Linked DNA regions of Homo sapiens: region 1 is linked to region 2. Evidence: fine-mapped expression QTL. A gene starts in region 2. The other region holds a variant in brackets. All regions are shown on one strand. Distances are between the middles of the regions.

Evidence for each region.
Region 1: its variant is fine-mapped to the expression of DKK1 in lung (TOPMed, PIP above 0.99).

Annotation. Positions count from the first base shown.
Region 1 is chr10:52,373,072-52,381,411 of GRCh38, reverse strand. No RefSeq gene overlaps it. Among named protein-coding and RNA genes, the nearest start is that of DKK1, 63 kb to the right of the region's middle. The variant GT/T (reference allele first, on the strand shown) is at 4,610.
Region 2 is chr10:52,309,952-52,318,291 of GRCh38, reverse strand. It overlaps DKK1 (dickkopf Wnt signaling pathway inhibitor 1), which reads right to left and starts at 4,011. Exons shown (of 4, transcript NM_012242.4): 1 at 3,615-4,011; 2 at 3,207-3,369; 3 at 1,857-1,997; 4 at 635-1,738. The coding sequence starts at 3,857. The coding sequence ends at 1,485. PRKG1-AS1 (PRKG1 antisense RNA 1) reads left to right here and starts at 4,164. Exons shown (of 6, transcript NR_038277.1): 1 at 4,164-4,658; 2 at 4,807-4,894. RefSeq lists an enhancer at 1-28.

The DNA of each region.
Region 1 (8,340 bases), 63 kb before region 2:
TTACTGGGTACATATCCAAAGGAATATAAACCATTCTACCATAAAGACACACACAAATGTTCATTGCAGCACTATTCACAATAGCAAAGAAATCAAATCAACCTAAATGCCCATCAATGACAGATTGGTTAAAGAAAATGTGGTACATATACACCACAAAATACTATGCAGTCATCAGGAAGAATGAGATCATGTCTTTTGCAGGAACATAAAACCAAATACCACATGTTCTCACTTATAAGTGGAAACTAAATGATGAGAACTTACGGACACAAAGAGGGGAAGAGACGCTAGGGTCTACTTGAGGGTAGAAGGTGGGAGGAGGCAGAGGATGAGAAAAAATAACTACTAGATACTAGTGTTAGTATCTGGGTGATGAAATAATCTGTACAACAACCCTCCATGACACAAGTTTACCTATGTAACAAACCTGTACATATATCCCTGAATCTAAATTAAAGTTAAAAGAGAAAGAACTTTCTCTCCTCCACCATTTCTCTGCTTCTCTAGCTAGCTCTCTATTATCAGTATGAACCCATGAATTACCATTATTTTCCAATGAATTATAAGTCCTTATTGTCCTTAATTATATTGGTTTATTTTTAATGACAAATATTTGTTTTTAATTCTTCAACTTTAAATACATAATGACGATCACATCTTACATTTGTTGGTCATTCCACACTTTTAAATGTAATTATCCTTAGCATTTCCATGCAATTATCTAATGTTATCCTCTACAAAAGATGTAAAATTCAATGGGATTAGTGTTTAGATTCAAGGAAGTGTCTCAGTACAATTTCAAGACTCTAAATTAGTAACAAATTTCTTAAGATTCAACATTGATTGCTTTTTGAGCAATCACAAGAAAGAGAGGCAAGGAAATACCTTTACAGCCCACAACAGCAGAAGAACATTCAGCAACCTCTTTCCAAATACATTTATAGTTGCTATATTAGTTTTTATAGAGTTCTGCATTGTTGCAAATAAAAATAAATGTTTACATGTGTACTGAGTTAACACATTGCATTTGTATTGTTACAGATTCTTATTTGCTTTAAAAATAAATAAGATTTTGGTATATAAAAATGAATGCAGATGATTTCTTTATTTCTTCATGAGAATCAACAAAGTAGTTCTGAGGAATAAAGCAAGCAATGCTCTTTTCCTTAAATGTTTTGTATATTTCACCATTCAACTCTGGACCGTCTTCATTCTGAAAAAAAAAATTTTGCCGGGCATGGTGGCTCACGCCTGTAATCCCAGCACTTTGGGAGGCCGAGGCAGGCAGATCACGATGTCAGGAGATCGAGACCATCCTGGCTAACACGGTGAGACCCCGTCTCTACTAAAAATACAAAAAAAAATTAGCCGGGCGTGTTGGTGGGCGCCTGTAGTCCCAGCTACTGGGGAGGCTGAGGCAGGAGAATGGCGTGAACCCGGGAGGCGGAGGTTGCAGTGAGCCGAGATCGCGCCACTGCACTCCATCCTGGGCGACAGAGCGAGACTCCGTCTCAAAAAAAAAAAAAAAAAAAAAATTGTTATTTGGGGGAAATATCAAATACATTTTATTCAGGTATATAGCATTTTAATGGAGTTCTCAAAATTTGATCATATTAATGTTACCAACACCAAAATATTAATTCAAGACATTAAATAAATATGCATGTAACTGAAAGTGGATCATTATAACAAATTTTAAATAAAGCCCACAAATTATAAGATTGTGAAAGTTATATAATAAATGTATATATGTCAAAAATCATAAAAGCGTGGACATAAATTAAAAAAGTAGAGAATAACTGGTCCATACCTGTATGTCTGCAATTCAGGTAAAATTTCTATGGTGGCCAAACCCAAGAAGAACATGCCTCTCTCAGTCAGATTTAACACAATTGGTGTGATTTAGAGATAAGAGCTGAGTAATAAAGAAACTCCCGCTTTGGTAGTGTTTACACAATATTACTTATAGTCTATGCTGCTTTTAATCAGCTTTGAGTCTGCTTCGAGATTCATTGAAAGGCAGATTGTTAACAAACTGACAAGAAAACCCATCACAGTTAAATCACCCACCAGAGAAACTTAATTTCTTTCATGATCTGTACTTTCTACTTGCTCACAAAGATTCTTACTGCAGTCATTACACCCTAAACATTCCCAGTGTCATAGGCTATAATATTGCAAACAATAGGATTATGACCTCTTTCAGCAGGTTTCTTGCTAGATTGAAGCAGGAAGAGGAGACGGATTATATGGAGAAAAGGCCTTATTTGAAAACATTAATCTTCAGTAATTAGTAATTGCGGGAGGAAATACAATACATTAAAGTTAAGTTATCTTCTGCAAAAACCGATTTCAAAAGCTGATTGAATCTGACAGCTATCTCCTAAGATAAAACATCTACAAATGTAAAAGTAAAATATTAACAATTGTTCAGTCAGCCTCATATTAAAAAAGCAGAACCAGAAGGTTGTTTTCTTTAGAAAACAAATGTACATGCTGTGTGTATGGGTCTGTGTCTTTGTGTGTGTGTGTTTATTTTCTAGCTAAAATAAAATTAATATTTCTTCAGGTGCCAGGAGAATAGAAAAGTATCTGGACCCAGGTTATTGCTTATTTTCAGTGTTTTGGATAAACTTCCCTTTCTTATTATGAATGTTGCTCTTTTCAAAATGTATCGCCGTACATCACAAATACCCCATATTTATTCCTCTTACCTTTTATTTGTTTGTTTTATAAATGCTTCCTCTGCACTTGGGGGAAGACGTCCAATTGAACCTGTTAAAAACTGAATGCCACATGTTTTAAAGTAGCTAACAATAGTCTCATTAAAAATAGTCTCTTCAAAATGTGGAAGTATAGGTACTGAAAAAGATAAAACCACTAGCTGCTATATTTGCAATTTAAAAAAGGCAAATTCAAGATGTGTCAGATTTAACAAAGCTACTGCTGGGGGGCCAATTTCAGAGATAAAAGATAAAAGGCCAGCAATCCACTTTACCCCCAGCAGTTCAATGAAAGTTGTGTGATTCCTATTGCTTCATCAGGTAACTACAAAGTAGTTTCCTCCCAGTGAATTCTGTGTTTTTGTGGATTCTAAAATATCTGACTGTGGAATGAGAAAGGTTTGTTTGAGTATGATAAAGGATATCTAAAAACCCTTATGCTCAGTTCTGACACATAGCCATTGACAAACTAACACCCGAACTCAAACACTCATGTACCAAGCATAAGATACAGCACTTGGGAGTTTCCATCACTCACGTGAATTTGCCACTTTTTCGTCCACCCCCACCATCTGCCAATTTTTTCTTTCTCATTGCTTGTTTCAGTTTACAAACTGATTATCATAGTGATTCAATATTTTTATTTCCGTTTTGAAATTTTTTTAAGATTTTGAGCTGCATTAAGATGTACAAAACAACATAGTGCTTCTAATGATTTTTCTGGCAACCAAAGATTTATCTTTGCCGATCTCTTTAATTATTCAATTGTCAAAGCCAGGTGTGTATATGACTTGCTTACTTAACTTTTTATCTTCTAGGGAAGAGTCTGGAATCCTTACCAAGATATTCATTAAAATTGTGGACTGGAATGCACTCTTGTTTCTTTTGATAAAATGAGTTCTGTGTTCAAATAGCAGATGTAATGTCCAAAGACTGCATCATCGGAGATAGTCTAGGAGACGGATAGAAAAGTTGCAAACAGGTCTGTGAACTGCTTTGGTGGACACAGATTTACTTTGAAGATTTCACTGAATCATTTCGACTTGTAAGCCACTCATGGCACAAAAAAAGCAAGTTTACCAGGCAAACCTTAACCAGATACTAGCTACAATGGGGGAACCTCAACAAATTTAGATGTGCAGTTCAGATAATTCCCTTGAAAGTTCCGATAATTGCCTAAAGCTTATTTAAGTCTATGGAAAGACTTTACCATCTTCTTCACTCCATCTCATCTTTTCTTCTTTCTTCCATAATCCTCCCCACCCCTACTCTGATCTTTTTGTTACTCTCCAGATCACCCTACTTTAAATCTCTCTGTTTTATCCTGAATTTCCACCTCACTTTTGAAAAGACCCTTCCATGCTGGCAAATTCCTGAAGTCAGAATGTAGTAAGTTTCCTTGCCATGCTGTTTTCTTATGCATCTAGTGTTTTCAAGGGTCAAAAAAATTTTTTTTCTCGGCTCTTTGGAAAGCCAAGAAATGAAAAGGTGTGAGTCAGAGCACCTACCTTCCAAATGTTGCTATGAAAAGAAAAAATATATTGACTGAGCAATGGAAACATTCACAACTACCTGTAAATCTAATACATTTGTCTTGCCACTGTTTCAAAATGTCAAATGTGTAACTGTGAATACTGTTCAGTATTCACATTCATATAATTCACATTTGAATACAATATTCCTCACATTTAACTTTCTGAAATGTCTTACAATTGGTTGGGGGGAAGGGCACTGCCCTTTGATCTTCATGTTCAAAAACAGTCACCAAGACCTTGGAAAACAGCAGATAAGAGTCTTACCCTTCTGATAAAAGAAAACACATTTTAATCAGACTCAGTAACTCTCTCGTGAAGAATTAGCAAATCTTTGTGGACTTAAGCAAA[GT/T]TCCTGGGCTTTGAGTTCAGATAGTGCAGTCTATCAGCAAATAGCTTACTGTTAAACCTGTAAGGGCAGTTACATGTAATATTATTCATTCATTCAATCAAAAAACAGTGATTGAGTATCAACTGAACACAAATCAAACCCTCTCTCAAAAAACTTTTAATTCCACAATGGAGACAGGCATTTTCAGAACTATTATAATGCAAAATAGAAAATGGCACATATCCAAAGGCATACAAGTTGAGAGCCATGGTCATTCAGAGGAGAAAAGATCCCATCTAGTAGGAGGAAGGCTTCTCAGAAGAGCCAGCCATGAAGTGGGATTTAAAATGAATAGGTAAGATTTAAACATCTAAAAATGAGGCGGAATAATGTTGTAAAGTAAGTAACTAGATTTCATTGGAAAGCATAACACATACTAGGAATCAACTGATTTAGGTTAATTGGTACACAGAGTAATGGAGAGGAGTGAAAGATAATACTGAGTGTTAATACATTGTGATGTATCCCTGAGGCTGGGGGTGGGAGAGCCACAAAGTCAGGCTGGAGAGTTTGAATGGATTCAGCAGGCTGTATGGAACCATCAAAAGCTAATGACAGTCCGTTAATTTTTAATGAATTTTCAAGCAATGGGGTAAGAATTGTCTTTTCAACAAATGGTGCTGAGACATTTAGATGTCTATATGCAAAAAGATGAATTCATACATTTATCTCTCTCTCCATATAAAAAAATTAGTTCAAGATAGCTGAATCTGTATGTAAAGGTTAAAAATATAAAGCTTCTAGGAAAAAAAAAAAAAAGAAGAAAATTTTCATGTCCTTGGGTTAGGCAAAGAATTTTTAAATAGAACACAAAATGCGTAACAGTAAATTTTTATTAGTAAATTGGACAGAATCAAAATTTAACTTTAAAAATACCAGTAGAGAAATGAAAAGACAACACATTGACATTGAGAAAATATTTGGAAATAATAAATCCAATAAAAGACCATATCCTGAATAAATAATGTGTTCTTACAACTCAATAATAATAAGACAACCCATTTTTTAAAATGAGGAGAAAAGATTTGAGTAGAAATTTCATATAATAATGGCTAACATGAAAAAATTAAATGTAGCCTGGGCAAGATGGCTGAATAGGAACAGCTCCGGTCTGCAGCTCCCAGCAAGACCAATGCAGAAGGTGGATGATTTCTGCATTTCCAACTGAGGTACCCAGTTCATCTCACTGGGACTGATTAGACAGCAGGTGCAGCCCACAGAAGGCAAGCAGAAGCAGGGTGGGGCATCACCTCACTGGAAAGCACAAGGGGTCAGGAACTCCCTCCTCTAGCCAAGGGAAGTCGTGAGGGACCGTGATGTGAGGGACAGTGCTATTCGGCCCAGATACTATGCTTTTCACACAGTCTTCACAACCCACAGACCAGGAGATTCCCTCGGGTACCTACACCACAAGGGCCCTGAGTTTCAAGCACAAAATTGGGCTGCTGTTTAGGCAGATGCTGAGCTAGCTGCAGGAGTTTTTTTTCATACCCCAGTGTCACCTGGAACCCTAGCGAGACAGAACCATTCACTCCCCTGGAATGGGGGCTGAAGCCAGGGAACCAAGTGCTCTTGCTCAGTGGATCCCACCCCCACAGAGCCCAGCAAGCTAAGGTCCACTGGCTTGAAATTCTTGCTTCCAGCACAGCAGTCTGAAGTCGACCTGGTAGGCCCAAGCTTGGTGCAGGGAAGGGCATCCACCATTAGTGAGGTTTGGGTAGGTGGTTTTCCCCTCACAGTGTAAACAAAGCCACTGGGAAGTTCAGACTGGGTAGAGCCCATGCAGTGCCACAAGGACACTGTAGCCAGCCTGCTTCTCTAGATTCCTTCTTTCTGGGCAGGGCATCTCTGAAAGAAAGGCAGCAGCCCCAGTCAGGGTCTTATAGATAAAACTCCCATCGCACTGGGACAAAGCACCTGGGGGAAGGGGCGGCTGTGGGCCAGCTTCAGCAGACTTAAACGTTCCTCCCTGCTGGCTCTGAAGAGACCAGCAGGATCTCCCAGCACAGCGCTCAAGTTCTTCTAATGGACAGACTGCCTCCTCAAGTGGGTCCCTGACCCCGTGCCCCTGACTGGGAGACATCTCCTAGCAGGGGTCAACAGGCACCTCATACAGGAGAGCCCCAGCTGGAATCTGGCAGGTGCTCCTCTGGAACAAATCTTCCAGAGGAAGGAGCAGGCAGCAATCTTTGCTATTCTGCAGCCTCTGCTGGTGATATCCAGGCAAACAGGATCTGGAGTGGACCCCCAGCAAACTCCAGCAGACCTGCAGAAGAGGGGTCTGACTGTCAGAAGGAAAACTAATAAACAGAAAGCAGTAGCATCAACATCAACAAAAAGGATGACCATGCAAAAACTCCATCCAAAGGTCACAAACAACAAAGACCAAAGATAGAAAAATCCACGAAGATGAGGAAAAACCAGTGCAAAAAGGCTGGAAAGTTGCAAAAACTAGAATGCCCCTTCTCCAAAGGATCACAACTCCTCTCCAGCAAGGGAACAAAACAAGACAGAGAATGAGTTTGACGAGTTGACAGAAATAGGCTGCAGAAGGTGGGTAATAACAAACTCCTCTGAGCTAAAGGAGCATGTTGTAACCCAATGCAAGGAAGCTAAGAATCTTGAAAAAATGTTACAGGAATTGCTAACTAGAATAACCAGTTTAGAGAAGAACATAAATGACCTAATGGAGCTGAAAAACACAGCACAAGAACTTCGTGAAGCATATACAATTATCAATAGCCAAACTGACCAGGCAGAAGAAAGGATATCAGAGATTGAAGATCAACTTAATGAAATAAAGGGTGAAGACAACATTAGAGAAAAAACAGTGAAAAGGAATGAATAAAGTCTCCAAGAAATATGGGACTATGTGAAAAGACCAAGCCTGCATTTGATTGGTATACCTGAAAGTGAAGGGGAGAATGGAACCAAGTTGGAAAACACTCCTCAGGATATTATCCGGGAGAACTTCCCCAACGTAGCAAGACAGGCCAACATTCAAATTCAGGAAATACAGAGAACACCACAAAGATACTCCTCAAGAAGAGCAACCCCAAGACACATAATCATCAGATTCACCAAGGTTGAAATGAAGGAAAATATTTTAAGTGCAGCCGGAGAGAAAGGTCGGGTTACCCACAAAGGGAAGCCCATCAGACTAACAGCAGATCTATCTGTAGAAACCCTACAAGCCAGAAGAGAGTGGGGAACAATACTCAACGTTCTTAAAGAAAAGAATTTTAAACCCAGAATTTCATATCCAGCCAAACTTCATAAGTGAAGGAGAAAGAAAATCCTTTACAGACAAGCAAATGCTGAAAGATTTTGTCACCACTAGGCCTGCCTTACGAGAACTCCTGAAGGAAGCACTAAACATGGAAAGGAACAACCAGTACCAGCCACTGCAAAAACATACCAAATTGTAAAGACCATCAACACTATGAAGAAACTGCATCAACTAATGAGCAAAATACCTAGCTAGCATCATAATGACAGGATCAAATCCACATATAACAATATTAACCTTAAATGTAAACAAGCTAAATGTCCCAATTAAAAGGCATAGACTGGAAAATTGGATAAAGAGTCAAGACCCATCAGTGTGCTATATTCAGGAGACACATCTCACATGTAAAGACGCACATAGGCTCAAAATAAAGGAATGGAGGAAGACTTACCAAGCAAATGG
Region 2 (8,340 bases):
TTGTGTCCCACTGGTTGAGACCCTTGAAATTGAACCACTTCCAGAAACACAAAAACAACAAACGGTCTAGTACATCTGCGTTATTTAAGGAAATATTTGCACGATTGATCAGTCACTACTATCCTTTGCAGGCCTGAAATGCAGCATTTTGTGGTTTGGGTGCAGACTTTAGAATACTACAGAAAAAGTATAAATTGGGAAGTTTGCTTTCCCTTTTCCTCAGTATAAACAATATGAAATCTGGCAAGTACAAATGCAAAGAAAATTTAGATTTTATTCCTGTGGGTTTTCTTTAAAATACTGTATCCGTATCCTCATTCCAATCAATAGATTTCAGGTTAAACAAAACTTGAAATATGAAACTCACCTAGCAAGAGAAAAAAAGAGTGGAATGAGGAAGGATTTGTGATTTTTAATTAATAATTATTTTAAAACCAAAATAATTAGAACAAGTCTGCTTTGCATGCAGTAGTACTCAAGATACTGCAAATTATTTTGTTTGGTACAAAATCTGCATGTATTTGTTAACTGTATTTATGGGCACACATCCTGTTCCTGCCAATCACCAAGTACTTTGGAGTATTATTTTTGTGGATGATTTTCTTCCTTGTCCGAAAAATATTGACCATTTAGGTAGGTATTATTAATTTATTGGAAACTATTTTTGAAAGTAGTAATGTAAGATTCACTCTCATTCTGCCATGATCATTTGAGTTTATCAATGCAGAACACGTCTTTCTTTAAAGTTATTCTAGAGCTGATCAATATTGTCTTATATTTAGACACTGTCTTTTCTCTGATCATCTTTAAACATATCACACTTCCGTTCTTGTAGAACACACACATACGTACACACACACAAACCTCTAAGATCACAATCCCAAAATGTATGTCTACTTATAACATTTCATGATATTAAATGTTAAATTTTATTTCAAAAACTATCACAGCCTAAAGGGAAATATAATTTAAGCATTAAGATAGTACATTTCAGAAAATAAGCTAGTATTTTCATGTTACATTTTAGGTACCTATCATTTGTCATTCCAAGAGATCCTTGCGTTCTAGACTCTAGAATTAAATGGGGTAAAGGGTTATGCTTTTAAGAACTATAAGCTGAAATGATTTACTTCAGTTCAATATAGAATATTTGTCAGTCAAGATAACAATCAATGTGTACAAAAATTTACATAACAAGAGGAAAAATAGGCAGTGCAGCACCTTTAGAAAAATAATTAAAAGTTTCATTGCATTTACAGGTAAGTGCCACACTGAGAATTTACAATACAGTAATTTACTGCAATCACAGGGGAGTTCCATAAAGAAACAAAGCTCTTACACTCCAGGTTTTTGGAAGGTGTTATTGGAATGCTTAACTGAAACCACAGAACTTGTATATCCTTAGGATTGAGTTGATGAAGGTCATAAAAGGTTTTCATAGCATCTATTATATAAAAGGAGTTCACTGCATTTGGATAGCTGGTTTAGTGTCTCTGACAAGTGTGAAGCCTAGAAGAATTACTGGCTTGATGGTGATCTTTCTGTATCCGGCAAGACAGACCTTCTCCACAGTAACAACGCTGGAATATTTCTAGTCCATGAGAGCCTTTTCTCCTATGCTTGGTACACACTTGACCTTCTTTCAGGACAGGTTTACAGATCTTGGACCAGAAGTGTCTAGCACAACACAATCCTGAGGCACAGTCTGATGACCGGAGACAAACAGAACCTTCTTGTCCTACGAAGGAGAAGACAGTAGGAAAAAAGTACATAGTTACTGTTAAACCTGCATCGTTTCACTAAAATAATTCAAAAGACACTTCTGATGTGCTAAGAATGAGTCTTAACATCCTTACCTTTGGTGTGATACATTTTTGAAGACAAGGTGGTTCTTCTGGAATACCCATCCAAGGTGCTATGATCATTACCAAAGCTTTCAGTGATGGTTTCCTCAATTTCTCCTCGGAAATGATTTTGATCAGAAGACACACATATTCCTAAGGAAGCAGGAAATAGTGATTAACTTCAGGGTTGTAATGCATTACTGCTAACAGCTGTGACAGTGGCAGTCTGTTATGCCAGCATCAACTTGAGATACTTCATTGCAGTGACATCATTTTAAACACAAGCCAAACTTCCTCTTTACTGTTAATGCAAAACTCTCCAGATGGACAGAAGCACCAATGTGTATACTGTATACAGTCAGTCATAGGTAATATCCCCAGTATAGCCATTTAAAATACTTTCCCACCAACTGTGGTAGGGGCAAGTGAGATTTCTGCCCATTTTAATATTACCTTTGGGGTAAGAAAAAGAAACTCAGTCACTTTAAAAATGTTCTTAAAAATAACTTCTCTGCCCCTGGTGCTATATGGGTCCTACCAGACTAAGTTAAGCAAATGCAATTCCAGCTGCCTGGAACATTGCAATCTCACCGGCCAGTTACTTTACTGTGTAATTTCTATATTACAGAGATTTACTTAGTTCATCCTGGAGTACTGCTGGGTCCTAAGGAGGGTCGTCGCCCTGTTAGCTTATTTCTGGAGACCTCTTTAGCTGTCTAAATCCACCTTTTGAAAAATTAAAAGTTAGTGGATCTGTGGTTGGGGGGAGGAGTACTTATATTAAGGCAGCAGAGGGTAGAGGGAGGGGGAAGGATGGAGAAGTCAAGTTGTGAGGGTACCAAGATCTCTCTTAAAAATGGCCAATGCAGATAAATCAGTCCTCTGGCTGACAACAGTTTCAGCAAAAATCAGAAGGCGAGGCCAGTCTGGCAAAACTGTGAGAATCACAATAAGAAAAATGAAAAGGACAGCTGAACGCCAAAGCTGGTTTCTTTGATATCTGTATGATCCCATCGTCCTCCTCATCATCCCCCTTCTCAATTGACCTCAAGGTTCTCCCCAGACAAATTTTTATGGAAGAGTCCACTACGAGGTGAACCGTTGTATTGAATCATTGAGGGACACGGAGGAAGATAAGGACCTCAGAGACCTCCCAACTTCTCTCTTCTTCCCGATTAAACACTTGCAATGAAGATACTTCAGCGGAATCCTGCATGCTGAACACCCATTTGCAGGTGGCGCCGCAGTGTTCTCAGGGCGGAGATTTCTCCCCCCACCCCCCCCAACCCCCCGCCCCCGCCCAATTCATAGACGCTCAAAGGCTGGACAGTTTTAGTGTGAAAGGGAGCTTTCAGGACTCACCATTTTTGCAGTAATTCCCGGGGCAGCACATAGCGTGACGCATGCAGCGTTTTCGGCGCTTCCTGCAGGCGAGACAGATTTGCACGCCTGCGTCCCCTCCGCGGGTGGGACTAGCGCAGTACTCATCAGTGCCGCACTCCTCGTCCTCTGCGCACGGGTACGGCTGTGGGAAGGGTTCGGGGAGAGGGTGAGGCACCCAGACGTCCAGGTACCCGCCCTCTTGGACCCGGGCGCTGATCACAGTCCTTATCTGTCCACCTCTCCAAAACCTGTTACTGCCCACTGCTCCCAAATGCAGGGTTACCAAATGCTCCCTGAACCGCACACATTCAGCACGTTCTACTCCCTCGTCTCCAGATAGGACCCTTTCAAGGTCAGAGCATCCTCTGAGTGCCCGACCCCTCTCACCTGGTAGTTGTCAATGGTCTGGTACTTATTCCCGCCCGGGTACAGGATTCCCGGCGCGGCGCTGACTGCAGAGCCTGGGTGCCCCGCAGCGCCGCCCAGCGGTGGGGGCAGGTTCTTGATAGCGTTGGAATTGAGAACCGAGTTCAAGGTGGCGCTCACTCCCAGCAGAGGGTGGCCGCCGAGAGCCGCCGCTACCATCGCGACAAAGACCCGGGTAGCTCCCGCTGCGCCCAGAGCCATCATCTCAGAAGGACTCAAGAGGGAGAAAGAAAGAGAAAATGACCGTCACTTTGCAAGCCTGGGTCCCCACGAAACCGTGCCGGTTCGGCTGCAGAGTCAGGGTCCGGGAGCCCCCTGCGGTCCCAGAGTCCTGACTGCAGGGAGCACAGAGCTCTGCGCCGCCACCGCCACCGCGGCTGCCTTTATACCGCGGGCCCGGAGCATTCCGGCCCCTTGGGAGGGAGACAACAAAGCCGGGATGGGATTTCAAAGCGCTGGGAGGGGCTGGGAGGGGGTGTGTTTGTGTACATGAAGGGGGGCCTTTGACACTCTTCACCCCGCCCCTCCCTTGCTTAGTCGCTCGGCTGGCCCGGCTCACCTTCGGGGTGAAGGCTACCAGCGAGCGTTATAGCAGACGACTTTAATAAATGCAGGCGGCAGCAGGAACTCTGGGAACTTGGGTGCCCTTGCCTGGCAGTAAGGGTTGAATTATCCGGATCTGAAATACTTTACAGAGCCGAGGGGTGATAGGCTCTGCAAAAGCACTTTTTGCCCCTCTCCTTTATGCCAATACTCGCTGACTGTGCACACAAGTCATATTCAGTATTAAATACAAACCGGTCTGTAATTCAATGGCTCTAGCAAGACGCCTCTGAGAGGGCCAGGTGGCGGGTGCAAGTTGCTCATTAACCCTTTAGAGTCGCAGTTTGCAGATCTGAGTTAGATCCCCGGCTTTGAGGTCCTTCAGTTGCCCTCCTCCCCCACCTCCCCCCGCCACTGCGAGAAAAATGTGCAAAGAGAAGGAAATTTGCACATCAAACGAGGGTAAGAAGGAAGAAGAGCTAATTCTCTTTTGATGGGAAGTTTAGAGAGGGAGGCGAGAGACTGGCGTTTAGAAATTAGATCAGGGGTGGAGGGAAGAGGGAAATGACCATCCGATAATCAAACCATTTAATGTTGTTCTTTGAATCAGGGCAATCGCGGCGGTAGATGAACTTGATTAGGCAGACGCGTGAGATCAAAGTGGCCGGGACCAAAGCGGACAGGGTCCAACGTGCCAGGTCAGTCGCCTTTCCCCGGTTCTCCCTTCTCAGTGGTGGGCTAATGTGGAGAAATAAGAAACCCTTAGGGCTTAGCGCCTGACTTCCTCATTAGTATATCACATCGCAACGCTTCCGAATGCAGGGTTTGCTCCCAAGTCTTACCTTGCACGGGACCACGCAATACCCTTTCTAGGGAGAAAAGAAACAACCTTGAGGAGAAGAAGAGCTGAAAGTGAATTAGAAAGTGAATTTGACGTCATTGAAATTGGTGTGTGGATATAATAAAGTAAGGCTGGTGTATAAGAATGATGTCATGCTTATAAATGGGAAATGATCTATTTAATTCAACAAAAACTTATTGGAAGCCTAGAGCCCTGGCATTGGGCTGCCCTCTGGGTTGTTACCTTATTTTTATTTTTTAAATTTTTTGGTGAGATGGGTGGTGGGGGGAGGGGCACAGTGAATACAAATATTTATGAGACACAGCTCTCATTTTAAATAATAAAGTTCTCTTTATTCTAATTACAGTAATAATAAAAGATGTAGTAACAATAAAATTATAGCAATAAATATAAAAGCATACATAATTCTTTTAAAAACAGGTTGATATTATAAGTGTCAGAAAATAAGCAACTGTTTTGTGAGTTTGGAAAAGGGAGAGATGATTGAATAATCACTATTGAATTAAAAAAGAGTAAGATATATTTATTTTGTCTTCCTCTAAGCTGTATAGATTTAGGCTGTCTATAATGACTCCACATGCTGACCTACTATAGTCAGAACTGGGGCCACCACCAAGTAAAGCCAGTGACAATCTTAAAGTAAAAAAATCCTAAAGTTTACTGGGAGAAGGAGTAATTAAAACACAATTTACTATGGTCTGTGTTCTAGTTCCTTCAGTTTCAAAGGTAATATTAAGAAGATCATCTAAACAATTCTTGAATGGTACCCTAGTTATATTAGTGTCCTTCCCATCCCAAATTCCATCTGTCCAGGAAATTATCCTGTCAGGAATCAATGCGTTAAGCACCTTCAGTGTACTAGGAAATCTGCAAGCTGTGTTAAGTTTGAATGACTTTGAAACGTAGAGAAAAATCCGCCTGCCAATCAGAAGGTTGAAAATGTTTCTTTTTAGTCCTATTAACCTGTTTAAATATTTTGAATCTAGAAATATATTTGTGCCACACTAAAGGCCAATCTCTTGCCTTTTTTTCTGAAGAGATAGTATATGATTAATACATTTAATGAACTTGGTTCATTAAAAGCTTGGCTTCACAAAAAAAATCCATTGCCTGGGGCAAAAGAAGAGAAAGTGGAACAATTTAATCAACAAAAGGAAAATTCTGTTATAACAAAGAAGCTTGTTGCATAAATTCAACCTTGATCTCTGAACACATATCATTTGTCTATTATGTTTCAATATTCACTGAGTCTGGACAGAATCTGTGGTATTGAGCTAGGAGAGCTAAACCAAGCATAGAGTTTCAAGAATGGGCTAGCTTCTACCTCCTTCCTCAGCTTTCACATTGCTCCTGAAGTTGTCATGAGTTTAAAACTAATAATGAGTTGGTCAATATCTGAGTTCCTACTTTGTGCTAAGCATTATACATGATATTGTGTGATAAAAGATGAGTTCACATATAATCTACCTTCAAATCATTTAGTGGGCAGAGGAGAGGTAACCTCACAAATTATTCAGGGGAGAAATTACATGGGTGGTCCTCAGAGAGGGCTAAGTACATAGCAAATCAAACCTTTGTTCCAAATGAGGAAATTTATTTTTTCAGTACTTTTTCTCCATTTGAAAATCCTTTCCAGGATGTGGTTTGTTCATTGGCAACAAGAGTGCAAGGTAGATAAAGAGGTATAGTAAAACTCATTGTTCCATCAGCAGCCAGTTAATATTCGGTGAGTATCCATTATTGGGAGCATATCTCACAATATGAAAGGCAGGCTTCTTGTCCTCAGCTTTCAGTCTGTGACTAGTTGGGGAAATACAACATACTTACATGGGGCTGGGGGTAAAAATTTTTCCAACATCGATTATATTTTGGCAGATACTAGGTCATGGAGAGCAAGAAAAATGTGCAGGAACTGTGACCAACATGTCTTAGGAAGGAGAGAGGGTTCTGGTGATTGTCTGAGTCTCTCTTACAGCTGGGTGACAGAGGAGGTGGGAGCCAGAGTAGATGAATTTAGTTTATTAAACTGAGTTTATTTAGTCCTGTAGGGAACCCTGCCTCCTATTCAGTCTGGTATAAATATGATCATAATTAATGTAACAAATTTAATATTTTGTATTATATTTTTGAATAGGTGAAATATGCTTATCAGCGTGGAATTGAACCTCATAACTCGGGAACAGCATGCTAACACATGTCTTCTTTATATTTTAAGTGCTGGATGCCATGCATAGAATATTTCTCAACCTTTTCATCCATGAGGGAGACAGACAAATATACTCCAAAACACTCCATGCTATTCACCAACTATTTTTCCATCTCTATTATTTGTGACTGCTGATTTTTTTTATTTTATATATTTTTATATATTTTTTGAGACAGGATCTCATTCTGTCGCTCAGGCTGGAGCACAGTGGTGCAATCGTGGTTAACTGCAGCCTTGACCTCCCAGGCTCAAGCGGTTCTTCCACCTCACCCCCAAGTAGCTGGGACTACAGCTGCATGCCACCACACCTGGCTAATTTTTAATTTTTTTGTAGAAACAGGGTCTCACTATGTTGCTAGCCAGAGCTGGTCTTAAACTCTTAGGCTCAAGTGATCCTCCCACCTTGGCCTCCCAAAGTGCTGGGATTACAGGAGTGAGACACCGCGCCCAGTCTACTGCTGTATTTTAAATTCCCTTCTTTCCTCTTTTCTTTTTTCTCTCCCTCCTTCCCTTCTTTCCTTCTTTCTCTTCATTAAATCAAAAGAAGCAGATTTGTTGCCATATAATTTTACTTTGCTAGGAAAATACCGCATACATATCATTCCTTACGGTGGGTGTTGCCAACATTTTTGTTAGTGTCAATCTTGAGTATAGCAGGGATTCCTCATTCCTGATGTTTTGTAAAAAATGATATGACTTTCTCATTGACTTTTAAAACAGTTTGGTCTTAATGTTCTTCATGATGTTAAAAGAACTTTTAGACCTGGTCCATGTTATGACTCCCCTGAGAGCTGGATTTTCTGCACTCCCCAGTACAAACAGAGGGCAAGATTTGACCGTGATTACATTTATTTGGGCGGTGGAGATGGCCAGCCCAGATAAATCAGGCTCCGTGGTAGCTTTCTAACCAAGCTCAGAAGATGTGTTTTACTGGAGTAAGACATTAAAAGCTAATCTGAGAGTAGAGGCTGGGTTCCAGCCTCTAAACCCAGTGAAGATAGTGCCTAACCAGATAGATATCTGCCTGCATCCTTTCTGAGGTCCTGACACTCAGAAAGGTCTGTGGTGGTGGGTAT